4 linked regions of the Homo sapiens genome follow. The protein of the gene in region 1 purifies or fractionates together with the protein of each later gene. This does not show direct contact. Each region holds a gene or a part of one and is shown on either strand. Other genes may lie near its edges.

The links. The genes of interacting proteins can lie anywhere in the genome.
Region 2: the proteins of PLBD1 (region 1) and ANKLE2 purify together in Homo sapiens (affinity purification with mass spectrometry; one large-scale study listed by BioGRID and IntAct). This does not show direct contact.
Region 3: the proteins of PLBD1 (region 1) and PDXDC1 purify together in Homo sapiens (affinity purification with mass spectrometry; one large-scale study listed by BioGRID and IntAct). This does not show direct contact.
Region 4: the proteins of PLBD1 (region 1) and ANKS1A purify together in Homo sapiens (affinity purification with mass spectrometry; one large-scale study listed by BioGRID and IntAct). This does not show direct contact.

The regions. Positions count from the first base shown.
Region 1 is NC_000012.12:14,512,384-14,515,883, forward strand, and holds part of PLBD1 (phospholipase B-like 1 precursor), read right to left. Parts: intron 1-3,500. UniProt on the Homo sapiens protein: In view of the small size of the putative binding pocket, it has been proposed that it may act as an amidase or a peptidase.
Region 2 is NC_000012.12:132,751,833-132,755,332, forward strand, and holds part of ANKLE2 (ankyrin repeat and LEM domain-containing protein 2), read right to left. Parts: intron 3,302-3,500; coding exon 2,843-3,301; intron 1-2,842. UniProt on the Homo sapiens protein: Involved in mitotic nuclear envelope reassembly by promoting dephosphorylation of BAF/BANF1 during mitotic exit.
Region 3 is NC_000016.10:15,027,026-15,030,525, reverse strand, and holds part of PDXDC1 (pyridoxal-dependent decarboxylase domain-containing protein 1), read right to left. Parts: intron 1,649-3,500; coding exon 1,560-1,648; coding exon of another isoform or gene 1,494-1,559; exon of another isoform or gene 721-1,493; intron 576-720; coding exon 470-575; intron 1-469.
Region 4 is NC_000006.12:35,011,255-35,014,754, forward strand, and holds part of ANKS1A (ankyrin repeat and SAM domain-containing protein 1A), read left to right. Parts: intron 1-3,500. UniProt on the Homo sapiens protein: Regulator of different signaling pathways. Regulates EPHA8 receptor tyrosine kinase signaling to control cell migration and neurite retraction.

The DNA.
Region 1 (3,500 bases):
AGTGATTCACCCACCTTAGCCTCTAAAGTGCTGGGATTACAGGTGTGGGCCACCACACCCGGCTAAGTCTACATAATTTTTATAAATGGAAAAACATCTACATTTAGAAAAGTAAAGATGGTTTTGAAACTAGGGCATTGACACTCTTGGTCAATGCTTTTTTATAAATGTTGGAGGCAACACAGGAAAATCAGTGAAGCCACAGTCTTTTCTGAAGACCTATTTTGTGGTTTATACTGGGATGAGTATGGAAAGGATAGAATATCAGGCACAGCTGTAATAAAAAGAGAGGATATACTGTCATCAGTAACAGTAATGGAACAACTGTCAGTGTTAAACAGAAAAGGACCTCAGTGGTAGGGTTAGAAGGGGCCAGAGTGGTAAGTTCCTTCGGTGCATCCTGCTGAAGGGTTTTAAGGCCCTTACAAAACAGTCCCGAGGGAGCTAGCTAGCCCCTTCCACTATGTGAGGTCACAGAGAGAAGGCACTGTCTACGAGAAACAGACCCTCATTAGACACTGAGTCTTCCAGTCCCTTCATCTTGGGCTTCCCAGCCTCCAGAACTGTGAGCAATAACATTTCTATAGCTTATAAATTACCTAGTCTGAGGTGTTTTGTCATAGTAGTCAGAATGGACTGAGATGGTCTCAAATTTCTACCATGATTTTTTACCACTTTTATCATTTTTGCCATATCTGAGTACTATCTGAACTATCATTTAGTTAATATTTTTGTTATTTTTTAACTGACAAGTAAAAATTATATATATTTATGTTATACAAAAGAAAGGATATTTTGATATCTGACAAGGAAACATTGTATATATTTTGGCATACAAAATGATATTCTGATATATGTATACATTGTCAATGGCTAAATCAAGCTATTAACATATGCACTACTTAATATCTTTCTTCAAATTAACTCACTTTTCAAACTTAACTTACCCTTGTCATATATCATAATGTCTCAGAAACTATGGACTTAATGTTTTTGTTTTTTCCCAAAGAAATACATTAAAACAAATACATTTCTACTAATGTGCAAAAAATGTTTGTCCACATACTGCCTCAAATCACCCCACCAGCCCTATGCATGCTATTACACATCTATTCTAGCCTAGTATGGAATAAGTAAGGTGGGGTCAAAGAAACGGGTCACCTGAAACCGGAGGTAAGAGCATGGACTGGGAGTCAGAAGACCTGCATTTTAGTTTCCTGCTTGCCTCTAATGAATTTGACAGTTCTTATTTTGCCTCTCTCTTCCTTATTTCCTTCTTCTGATAACCTGGGACTAATGTCATTCAGCTATTCAGCTCTAACAATCTGATTTTAATTTCTTGAAATTTCTTGAGTAGGAAAGTTACACGATGAGAGGACTGTCCAACTAACTCTTAGTTTTTTTTTTTTTTTTTGAGACGGAGTCTCGCTCTGTCGCCCAGGCTGGAGTGCAGTGGCGTGATCTTGGCACACTGCAAATTCCACCTCCTGGGTTCACGCCATTCTCCTGCCTCAGCCTCCCAAGTAGCTGGGACTACAGGCGCCCGCCACCACGCCCTGCTAATTTTTTGCATTTTTAGTAGAGACGGGGTTTCGCCATGTTAGCCAGGATGGTCTCGATCTCCTGACCTCATGATCTGCCCGCCTCGGCCTCCCAAAGTGCTGGGATTACAGGCGTGAGCCACCGTGCCCGGCCCCAACTAACTCTTAATGAGCCTCTACACGGCTGCCATTAAGCTATAGAGAGCTTTGTGTAAATTAGAGAAAGTTGCACATTCCAAGTGGTACAAGGTTTAACAGTACTCTTGAATGAAATTTTAATGGGTCACCTCTCTAGAAAGACATGACCTGGGCAAGGATATATGGCTTGACAGAGTGTAAAATGGATTGCATTCGTGTCTTGGGCTGGGATCATTTTTCAAACTGTACAACCATACTTGGCAGCCTTGAGAAAGCTCCCTGGTAGATAATCCCTGTAGGGTAGAATGCTGTATTTCCGGAATGACAAGTTTGCTAATTCAATACTTGCTGTAGCAGTCTCCCTGGACACAAGAGGGCAGGCGTTCTTTAATATGTGTAGGTGATTGAATATTACAAGTACTAATGTTTAAGGAGTAGTCTTTCATTTAAAGGCAAGATTCTTTATGAAAGAGACAGGATGATGGAAATATATAGGCTATCCAGAGTTCTAGAGCAAGGAGAGTGAACTGGCCTGCAAAAACTATAGTTGAGGAGGCTAATTCTATAGTTTAGAGTTTAAGATAATAAAGAAAAGGCCCAGAGATGGGACAAAGTTCTGACACATTGCCTTTGAAAAGAAACACATTTCTTTGACTACATACAATTATAATCTTTTTAAATTTTTTTTTTTTTTGAGACAGGGTCTCCCTGTGTTGCCCAGGCTGGTGTCGAGCTTTAGAGTTCAAGGGATCCTCCAGCCTTGGCCTCCCAAAGTGCTGGGATTACAGGTATGAGCCACCACACCCTAACTAAAATTATAATCTTGCTCTCATCTGTCATTAGCAGCTTTGGAAGGCAGATTGAGATCAGGAGAAAATGAAACACTCCAGTGTTTTATGAATGCCAGCCTAAGAATAACATTTCATGATAAGCTTCTCACTGAATTTAATTAAGAAATAAAAAGAAACACTTCCGGTTAATAAATCCTATTTCAAGACTTAAAAAAAACACCAAACTGCAGAAATAAACAGTAACCACTATGTAGTCATGCAAATGGCAACAACAGTTACTCAACACACACCATGGAACAAACACATTAGAAACAATTATGAAGATTGACTCATGGGGAGTTGCATGTTGAGACAGGGTGGAGTTGAGGGAAATCATCTTATGACCAGTTAATCAAGAAAAGTATGAAAACTAAGGTGGGATTTCTGGAAAGGTAGAAGGGAGGACACATCCTGATTTAGGTGGGGAAGATGATCAAGACAGGTCTGATCTGGCAGAAGACATCAGTGTTCTGGGATGGTACCAATGAGGAGACAAAGAATCAAAGAAAGGTACTTAAAAAAAAAACAGAAATTAAGTGCTGCAAAATCCATTTATAATTCTTTAGAATACGTGCCCGTATTCTGCTATTGCTTTTTTTTTCTTGGTTCTACCTTTTAAAAGCAAAGGACATGAATTTTGGTCTGTACTAAATATAGATTGTTTTTATATACTTCAGCTTTATGACCAAAGTACCTAGATCAAAGAGGTAACATGACATTAATAACAGTAATTACAGAACATTAAAAATGTTTACAACATATATTTATTAAATAGGCAATTTTATAGATTATGAAGACTTGACTTAAATTTTCCTGGAGCCTATTCTTTTATCTTCATGTGTACCTACTTTCAAGTACATGCACTTAATATTTAAAAAGGCCAAGCTGGCTCATGCCTGTAATCCCAGCACTTTGGGAGACCGAGGTGGGTGGTGAATCATTTGAGGTCAGGAGTTTGAGACCAGCCTGACCAACATGGTGAAACCCCATC
Region 2 (3,500 bases), about 120 Mb from region 1:
GTACCCGGCTGGGAATGCCTTTTTAAACATGCCAAGAAACCATTCAAAACAAGATAATCCTGATTATATAAAAATATTAAAGCTCTGTAGTGGAACTATCACAATTAAGTTTTGTATGAGACTATCGTAAATACATAAGATATACACTACTGGCCAGGAGACAAAAATTTATGAACAATGTAACAGACGAATGGTTACTGTCCACTACTGGATAAAAATAGCCATAGTTCGGGCACGGTGGCTCACGCCTGTAATCCCAGCACTTTGGGAGGCTGAGGCAGGTGGATCACCTGACGTTGAGAGTTTGAGACCAGCCTGACCAACGTGGAGAAACCCTGTCTCTACTAAAAATATAAAATTAGCCGGGCGTGGTGGCACACCCCTGTAGTACTAGCTACTCGGGAGGCTGCAGCAGGAAAATCACTGGAACCCAAAAGGCAGAGGTTGGAGTGAGCCAAGATCGCACCACTGCACTCCGGCCTGGCGACAGACCGGGACTCTGTCTCAAATAATAAGTAAATAAATAAATAAATAATAAAAATAAAAACTGCACCATGATCATTTCCCAGTGTTACTTTCTTTTTTTTGAGATGGAATCTAGCTCTGTCGCTCAGGCTGGAATGCAGTGGCACAATCTCAGCTCACTGCAACCTCAGCCTCCTAAGTAGCTGGGACTACAGGTGCCCACCACCACACCCCGCTAATTTTCTGTATTTTTAGTAAAGACGGGGCTTCACCGTGTTAGCCAGGATGGTCTCGATCTCCTGACCTCGTGATCTGCCTGCCTCGGCCTCCCAAAGTGCTGGGATTACAGGCGTGAGCCACCGCGCCCGGCCCCTACGTATTCTTTAAAAAGATCTTACAGAACAATATTCCATTCTATTCATAGTGTTTAACCAATTATGTACTCATAGGCGTCACCACAAATGGTATCACAGTAATAACAATACTCATAACAGTGTGCAATTTCTGGCATCCCAATTAATACTGAGTTCTCATTTCTTTTTTCCAATGCTAAATCTTCTTTAAAATTACAATTCTTGGGCTGGGCACAGTGGCTCACACCTGTAATCTCAGCACTTTGGGAGGCTCAGGTGGGAGGACTGCTTGAAGCCAGGAGTTCAAGACCAGACTAAGCAATAAAGCGAGACCCAGTCTCTTAAAAAAAAAAAAAAAAATTTAATTACCTAGGTGTGGCCAGGCGAGGTGGCTCACGCCTGTAATCCCAGCACTTCGGGAGGCTGAGCCTGGCAGATCACTTGAGCCCAGGAGTTGGGAGACCAGCCTGGGCAACATGGGGAAACATTGTCTCTACCAAGAATACAAAAAAACTGGCGCGTACTGGCACGTGCCCGTGATCCCAGCGATCCCAAGCTACTCCGGAGGCTGAGGTGGGAGGACTCCTTGAGCCTGGTAGGCAGACATTGCAGTGAGTTGTTGAGATTGCATCACTACACCCCAACCTGGGTGAGAGAGAGACCCCAGTCTCAAAAAAAAAAACCACCAAAAACAACCAATTAGCTAGGCGTGCTGGTGTGTGCCTGTAATCTTAGCACTTTGGGAGACCAAGGTGGGTGGATCGCTTGAGGGCAGTTCGAGAGAAGCGTGGGCAACGTGGCGAAACCCCGCCTCTATAAAAAATACAAAAATTGGCTGGGCGTGATGGCTCACACCTGTAATCCCAGAACTTTGGGAGGCCGAGGTGGGCAGATCACGACGTCAGGGGTTCGAGACCAGCTTGGCCAAAATCGCGAAACCTTGTCTCTACTAAAAATACAAAAAATAAAAAATTAGCTGGGTATGGTGGCGGGCGCCTGTAGTTCCCAGCTACTCAGGAGGCTGAGGTTACAGTGAGCTGAGATCGCACCACTGCACTCCAGCCCAGGTGACAGTGCGAGACTCTGTCTCAAAAAAACAAAACAAAACAAAACAAAAAAAAACCATAAAAATTAGCTGTGCGTGGTGGCGTATGCCTGTGGTCCCAGCTACTCAAGCGGCTGAGGTGGGAGGATCACCTGAGCCAGAAAGGTTGAGGCTGCAGTGAGCTGTGACTGCACCACTGCAATGCAGCCTAGGTGGCAGAGTAACACCCTGTTTCAGATGAATGAATAAATTAAAAAAATAAAATGGCCAGGCGCGGTGGCTCAAGCCTGTAATCTCAGCACTTTGGGAGGCCAAGGCAGGTGGATCATGAGGTCAGGAGTTCAAGACCAGCCTGGCCAAGATGGTGAAACCCCGTCTCTACTAAAAATACAAAAAATTAGCCAGGCGCGGTGGCAGGCGCCTGTAATCCCAGCTACTCAGGAGGCTGAGGCAGGAGAATCGCTTAAACTGGGAGGGGAGAGGTTGCAGTGAGCTGAGATCACGCCACTGCACTCTGGCCTGGGCAACAGAGTGAGACTTTGTCTCAAAAAATAAATAAATAAATAAAAACAAAATAAAACCACAAATCTTTGATGCTGAAAAGTATTTATACACTCATTGGCCATTTGCATTCATTAACATAAAAGATGTGCAGGTTACACTGCATTTTAAAAAGGCGGAGATGACTAATCAACAAAGTTCCTAACCAACAGCAGCAGCCAGTTAATATTAATATCTCAGTCCAGCATATCTCATAGAATCCAATTTACCTCACAAATTTTAACAGTTCTCATGTTAAATTCACAAATATTTCAGAAAAGTTCTACATAAAAATGTTAACAATGGTTAACTGGGGTGATGAGATGGAGGGGATTGGATTTTTTCCTTCTTAATCTGTAGTTTTCCATTTTCAGACGTCATCCCGCCCCTCCGCGTATGTGCTATCTGTGTGAGGAAATCCTACACACGGTCCCATTACCATTTCTCGCTGGGACGTCCTCATACACTGGACACACCCCATAGTACAGGGGCGGCTCCTTAGACGCAGTCGCTCCAGCTCTGTAGGTGTCGGTGTCACTAGGGGGCACCGAGCAGGTCTTGGATGTCACAGCTTCCTCCTCTGGAGGATTCAGGCCCACACTGTAACCAAAATCTCTGTCTTCAGAAAAACCAGCCTGATCAGTTGGGTTCCCTTCAGCTGGCTTCAAAATCCTTTGTGGGTCCTGGCTGAGAGCTGTGACACCTGCCTCATGGTGGTAGAAAGAAGACAGCCTTCCTCCTTGCTCCAGTAAAGCCTGAGCCAATTTTTTCTCAAAAATGAACCTTGTAGTTGATGTAATGGGTCCACATTTCAATCCGGCTTTGACGATTTCTTCTCTAAGGTCATCTGGATTCAGAAGTTTCAATCGAGCCAACAGAGCATCCATTGTCATTTCACCTAGGCCCAAGACAAAAAAATCAAAGAGTCACAAAATACTAACACCTGCTGAAGCTGGGTGATGGGTACTAGGGTTCATTATATAATGGCATCAGTTTCTGTTTCTTTCATTAAAAACTTTTTTTCTTGGCTGGACGCGGTGGCTCACGCCTGTAATCCCAGCATTTTGGGAGGCTGAGGCGGGCGGATCATCTGAGGT
Region 3 (3,500 bases), on another chromosome or scaffold:
CCCCCAGGCTGGAGTGCAGTGGTGTAATCTCAGCTCACTGCAACCTCGGCCTCCCAGGTTCAAGTGATTCTCCTGCCTCAGCCTCCCAAGTAGCTGGGACTGCAGGTGTGTACCACCATGCCTGGCTAATTTTTTGTATTCTTAGTAGGGGCGGGATTTCACTATGTTGGCCAGGCTGGTCTCGAACTCCTGACCTCAGATGATCTGCCTGCCTTGGCCTCCCAAGGTGCTGGGATTACAGGTGTGAGCCACCATGCCCGGCCAATTCAGGTGACTTCTGAATTCTCATTCTGATTCTGGTAAGTTACATGGGAATGCTAATCTACCTAAATTTAGCCCAAAAGAAAAGAAAATGCCCCTCCAAAAAGAGCTGCTAATAACTCTAGGAGAATGGAGTATCATAAGGGCAAGCTAATCTACCCAGCAGCCCCAGAACAAAAGCAAGGGATGTCCACCAAGCCTGGTTTACCTGCTGCGGTCATCAAAGGGCTGAACCGCAAACACGTGCCCTCAGCTTCCAGATCCATGACTGTGAGGCCGCTTGCAGGCACCAGCTGCTTCAGCTGTTCTCCCAGCTGTGAGGAGGACACAATGAACACCCTCCTGTAACAAGGGACTCAGACGTCTTCAGGACCCACCCTCATCCCCTCGGCCCCAGACCAAAGAGCCTCCTGGAGAGCTGATTCCTGCTCTTTTGACTGTCTGATTACTTAGAGCAGCTTTTTAAAAACAGTAAATTTTATGGTTTTTTCTTATTAATACAAGTTCATTGTAGAAAAATTTAGGAAATACAAGTAAACAAAAAGAAGAAAATAACAATGACCCACAATATATTACTAAGCGACACCCACTGCTGACATGTGGTCTGCCCCCAGCGTCTTTTCTCCTAGTGGCGGGCAGGGAGTTGTAGTTGTTGTCATAAAACATGCTACTTGACACTGCTTAGTAACCTGCATTGATTCATTTCGTTTATGACCAGTTCCTTTCTGCTTGAGACACTCAGCTCTGTGGTCTCTCACAGCTGTGCTGAGCCCCAGCATGGATGTACCAGGACTTATCTGCCAACCCTGCTAGGCTGGGCGTGTCCAGCATTGGCTAGAACTGCTGCTGCCGCCATCCCACACTGTTCACAAGACCCTTCAGACTCAAATCCTAGAGCTGCTATTCAGTGCCCAAAACGCTATCAAAGTGCAGGCCTGGCTCCACACTGCCAGCTGCAGATGCTCGGCAGACTCTGCCTGGGGCTCCCGGCTGTGCTGCCCAGGCTCACCAGAACCCACCGCAGCTGCCCTGCAGCCCACCTTTTGCCTGTTGTCTCACAGCCTTATACAGCAGCAAGGAAAGTGAGGGAGCAATGCCAGAAGGACTTGCCAGAGGTGACCCAGCTCGTGAGGTGGTAACGCAATGGGGAACAGAACTCCAGAGCAGGCCCAGCACTGGCAGGGCGGCTCCTCCTGTGGGCCTCAGTTCCCATACACGAGCACGCGTCACCCTCACCAGCAGGTCGGATGGTGATGGACGGGGACCTGAAAGGAAAGGGGGGTGACTGCCATTCTCACCCAGCGATTCAGCGCGTCACACGAGTGCCTCTCCCGGCCGACTCCTGAAGGTGTCATGTTGGGCACTGGGACGGCTTTAAACACCGGATCTGACACCAAAACACAGAAAGGGAGTCACTCCCAGAAACACGGCTGACCAAAAAAAACACCCTCCAAACCCCACATCATTCCCATCCCAATATTAGCCCCAGGGCACTGACTCGTATTACTGAATTCTCATGTATTATCTGACAGAAGGGCTACATTTCTTTTTCCTCGTGATCTATGTAACACTTGAATACATTCACATAAGACAGAATTATTAATTTCATTTTTGAAAAGGTTTGCTTTCAAGGGATTTCAAGGGGAAACAGCAATTGTTTTAAGTTACTAACTAGTTTACCAAGCACCGTGCGAGGTCTGTGAGTGCCACGATCATCTAACTAGGCCTCACAGTGGGTGCCAACCCGTGCCAGGCACAGAGCCCGACACTTGGGACAGAAGGCAGGTAAGGTTTCTGTCATCTTGGAGCTTACATTTTAGTTGAGGAAACAGACCATAAAGAAAGAAAATCACTCCATGTGGTTGTTAGTGTCACAAGTGAAGCTGGGGGCTCTGATAGAAAATGATGGAGTCCCCTCAGGCACGATAGGCAGGGAAGGCTGAGGATGTGGATACTTAGTGGAGACCGAAATGGTGAGGAGGAGCTGGCACCAGAAGAGAGAAATGTGTGTAAGACAGAGGGAACGCCGAGTGTTAAGCCCTTGCGGTAGGAAAGGGCAGAGTGTTCTGGAGCGCGGAGAAGACTGGTCTGACTGAGGCACAACGAACAAGAGGGAGAGTGGAAGGGGGGAAGGCAGAAGCGAATTCGGGGCAGAGTGTGCAGGCCTCATGGGGCATGGGAGAGCCTGGCCTTTGTTCGACCGAAATGGTAAGATACCCAGGGGCTCTGGGCAGGGAAGTGACACTGATACGGGAGTGCTGGGAAGGGAAGAGCGTGGTCCCTTTAAATGACACAGAAGCGGGGAAGGGAAGTGCTGGGGAGAGAAAGGCGGGTCCCTGGCTAGGACTCTACCCCCACGGACCTAGGTGAGGACAAGCACTCCTGCCTTCCCCCAAATGTTGCATTTCCCAAGACCACGCTGGCCCACCACACCACCATCCTGGGCCTATAAAAACCTGAGACCCTAGTGGGCAGACAGAAGTGGCTGGATGGCCAGAGGAACACATTGGTGGAAAAAGACACAAGCGGCTGGTCATGGAGAGCAGGCCGGCAGAAGAGCACCCCGACAGGCCCCGGCAAGCCAGCAGGCCATCAACCACGGGGACGAGGCGGAGTTTGGCCAGGGCCGCTGAGCGGCCCAACTCCAAGGGAAATCTGTCTCCCTTCTGGCTCCCCCATCAGCGGAGAGCTACTTTCATTCAATAAAACCTTGCACTCATTCTCCAAGCCCACATGTGATCCCATTCTTCCGGTACACCAAGACAAGAACCTGGGATACATTAATCCCTCTGTCCTTGTGATAAGGAAGGGGGTCTAAGTGAGCTAAAACAAGCTGCCTACAGACGGCTAAATTAAAAGAGCACACTGTAACACATGCCCGCTGGAGCCTTAGGAGCTGTAAAACATTCACCCCCAGATGCTGCCATGGGGTCGGAGCCCCACAGCCTGCCCGTCTGTATGCTCTCCTAGAGGTCTGAGCAGCAGCGGGGCACTGAAGAAGCGAGCCACACCCCCATCACATGCCCTGCGAGGGGGACAAGGGAACCTTTCCGGTTTCAACACCATGTGACTTCCACTTATAACCCTCTCTGCCAGGTGGAGAATGGTCTGGAATGGGCTGTGTAGAATGTATGAAAGTCAGAGGTCAGTTGACAGGGGACAATGGCCAACCAGGTAAAAAAAGAGTGGTGCCCTGGACTAGACTGGTGGCACTTGGGTCATTCTTTAAGATACAGATT
Region 4 (3,500 bases), on another chromosome or scaffold:
CCAGCAACTGGAGAAGAGAAAGCAAATGGCTATGAATACCCACTACAAGAACTGGCAGAAGATCAAGGGGAGCAAAGACAGCAAATATGCTATTAAATTAGGCATGGTTAGAAATCGTGGCTGGTTGGAAGCTGATCCAGGCAAAGCTGGTATATTGAAAACTAGGGAAGTTTGGGGGCCAGAGGTCAGAGGTCCAATGACAGGTAGAGAACAGACGCTTTAGGAGTTCAAGAAGAAGGGGGAGATGTAATGAGGTAATCAAGACCAAGTCAATGTGAAACAGTCCGAAGTCCCAAAGCTGGGCTATACCTATGGGCCCCAAGGTGAGTACAGATGGCTCCTAATCTGAAGATTCTCCACTGTGCTATTACATGTAATCCCAAACCAAACTTATAAGAATACTGGCCTTCCCTGGCATTTGAGTTTTATTCTGCCTCTTTAAAAGGGCTACTCAGAATAAATCAGTCTCCTTTGCAGAGTCAGGAGAAGGGAAACCAGCCTCTCTGTGCAGTGTTAGCATGATGAGCTAAGAGTTCAGAAATGACTGTAAATGAAAAATGGTGATAATGATAGCAGCTATCATTTACTGAATGCTTCCCACGGGCCAGCTGCCATGCTGATTTCCTTTATGTTGATTATGTCATTGTATATCTTGTGACAGATCTTCAGGGTAGGGGCTATTTTTGTCCCTGTTTCAGAGCTGAGGAAGAAAAGGTTAGGTATTGGAGCTGAGACTTAAACCCTAGTGTGACTGAATCCAAAGCCTGTACTTTTAACCATGAGGCTAAAACCATTTCATCAAAAGCCTTTCTGCTATTCATGTTCTTAACATCATAGAACTGGTAGGGACTATAGAGAGGTCCTTTAATCACAGATTCAAACTAGCCTAAATCCCAAAGCCCTGGAGAATGCATCCCAGGCATTCATTTTTTGAAAGAGACCTAGAGAGGAAAAGTCACGGGGCTGGAACTAAAACATGGGCTTCTTGAATCCCTGTCTAGCTCTTATTCTATTTCTCAGGTTGCCGTGGACCAAAATGAACTCTCAGTCTATTTGTCTTATCAAATTGCAGTCTTCAGCAAGTGTCTGAATAACTTGGTCAGGACCTTCCTTCCAGGAAGAGCCTGGTGACCCTCTGAAAGCAGCCATGTACTTGGGAGTTCTCCTGCACACCCATGGTTTTTGATGCTCACTATAGTGACTAGGCAGCTGGAGGATTCCAATCCTAATGATACGGAGAACACAAAACAATATGAGACACTGGGTCCCCCAGCCTTCTTCTCTGGGCCTGAGGGGAGATTTGAATTAGCAACTCCTCACATGAGCTGCATTCTTTAGCCTTAATTTAAGTGGGCAGAGGTGAATGAAAATGTGTAAATGTTGAAGTGTTATTATTCAAAAGCCCTTGAGATCCCATAGCTCATCGTAGTAATTAAAATGCAGCACAGAAGACCCCTTGCTTCAGTAGCTCACAGGGTATAAGGAAAATGAATGAGGATCACAAGTTGATGGGATTGGGAATTAGCATGCTGGTGTGCCATATTGAGTAGAACAGCTGGCCTCGATGTATGGGTAGCATAAGAAACAGGCCTCCCTCCCTGTGTGCCACTATCTCCTTGTTTCTCTCCTAGAAGGGCAGACTGTGGGGAGGGCAGAGCTCGGGGAACATGGGAAGTAGTGTAGGAGAAAGGCCTAAGGGTCTCTTCTGCAACTTCACTAGTCCCTGGGCGTGAGGTTTGTTGCCCAGGGTGGTCTCTAACTCCTGAGCTCAAGTGATCCTCCTCTCTCAGCCTCCCAAAGTGCTGGGATTACAGGCATGTACTGCCACACCTGGCCCTTCTCTGCCTTTTCTAATGTATTTTTACTTCTCTGTAAGCCTGACAAGGTCTTATTTCTCCTTCAGTGCTCAGCTCGAAAGCTACCTCTTCTGAGAAGCCTTCTGGTTCGAAGTAATCAGGCTTTCCTTTTTGTCTGCCAAGCATATGATTTATGCCTGTCTTAAAGCATCTATTGAGGCAGACTTGGTGTCTTTATTTTTTTTATTTTTTATTTTTTGGTGAGACAAGGTCTCGCTGTGTCTCCCAGGCTGGAGTGCAGTGGCATGATCACAGCTCACTGCAGCCTTGAATTCCTGGACTCAAATTATCCTCCCATCTCAACCTCCCAAGTAGCTGGGACAGCAGGTGTGCACCACCACACCCAGCTAATTTTTAAATTGTTTATAGAGATGAGGTCTCGCCATGTTGCCCAAGCTGATCTTGAACTCCTGAGCTCAAGCAATCCTCCCACCACAGGCTCCCAAAGCGTTGGGATTACAGGCGTGAGCCACCACACCCGGCCTCTTTATCCTCATATCCACCTGGGTGCCTCCTGAGGACAGACACTTCATACATTTGTCCATGGGATGAGTGGTTACAGTGACAGTTCTGGGGCCTGTCTCAGAGTTTCTCACTTCAGCCCTCTCACCATATTACCTTCTGTCCCTTCCTTCTGCTGTTCAGAGTTATAAGGATGGTGAAGGTAATGAATGCTTGTGAAGTGCTTTATATCTTACAGAGTACTTTCATGTACCTTATCTTTGATGATCCTTGTGACAGACCTGTGAGGAACGGAGAAGTAGTTGGTCTCATCTGTGAGCAAAGTGTGTTGTAACGGACCCTGTGTGGAGGATAATAACAATTTCAACATCTATTGAGAGCGTGGCATGTGCTAGACACGGTTCTTAATGCATTACACGTATAATTTAATTACCGCAACAATCCCCCAATTAAGATCCCAGAATTGCACAAAGAAGTGATTTGCTTAAAAACTGCTTCTTGATCAGTATATTCTATTGTTAGCACCTTGTCCCTAAGAGACCTTATATTATCCTTACTTTGCAGAAGGAAGAAACCATTGAGTAATTCTTTTCCCACCCATTGATCTGCCAAAAAAAACTCATCTTGGCCTTGGATGTAGTTTTTAATGGGAACAAGAACACCAGCCTTAGGGTCTTGGATCTCGGCAAGCTTTTCAGATACCAAAGTGTCTTTCTTAGGAATTGCCTGGCTAAGTCATATGATTATAAGAATTTCTTTCCATCATTTCTTATATTCCACAAAATATTGGTGGATTGTGGTTTCTCTAATAGGATTATGACCCTCAGAGATTCTTCCTCCACATATTTCCTTCCTCCGTAAGTTTCCATTCTTTCCTTCTACCCACTTCCTTCCCCTTGGCATGTGTCTGGTATTGAGCCCTTGGCATCTGTCTCTCTTTCATCATTGATAGCTAGCATGAATGGGTGGCTGTTTCACAGGGCCTGCATTGTTGGCTCCCACAGCAGCAGTTAGAACATTCTCTGTGGCCTGGGTTCTGAGGTCCACCCAGGCAGTGTGAGCCAGGCTGGCCCCCAGTTCTGAGCTGTGGTGTTTCCTTTCATTGTTGGTGCCTTAGCTCCCAGTTGTTAAATATGAAGCTGGAAGTTGATACAAAGCAGTAGAAGCCTGTGCTCCTTTTAC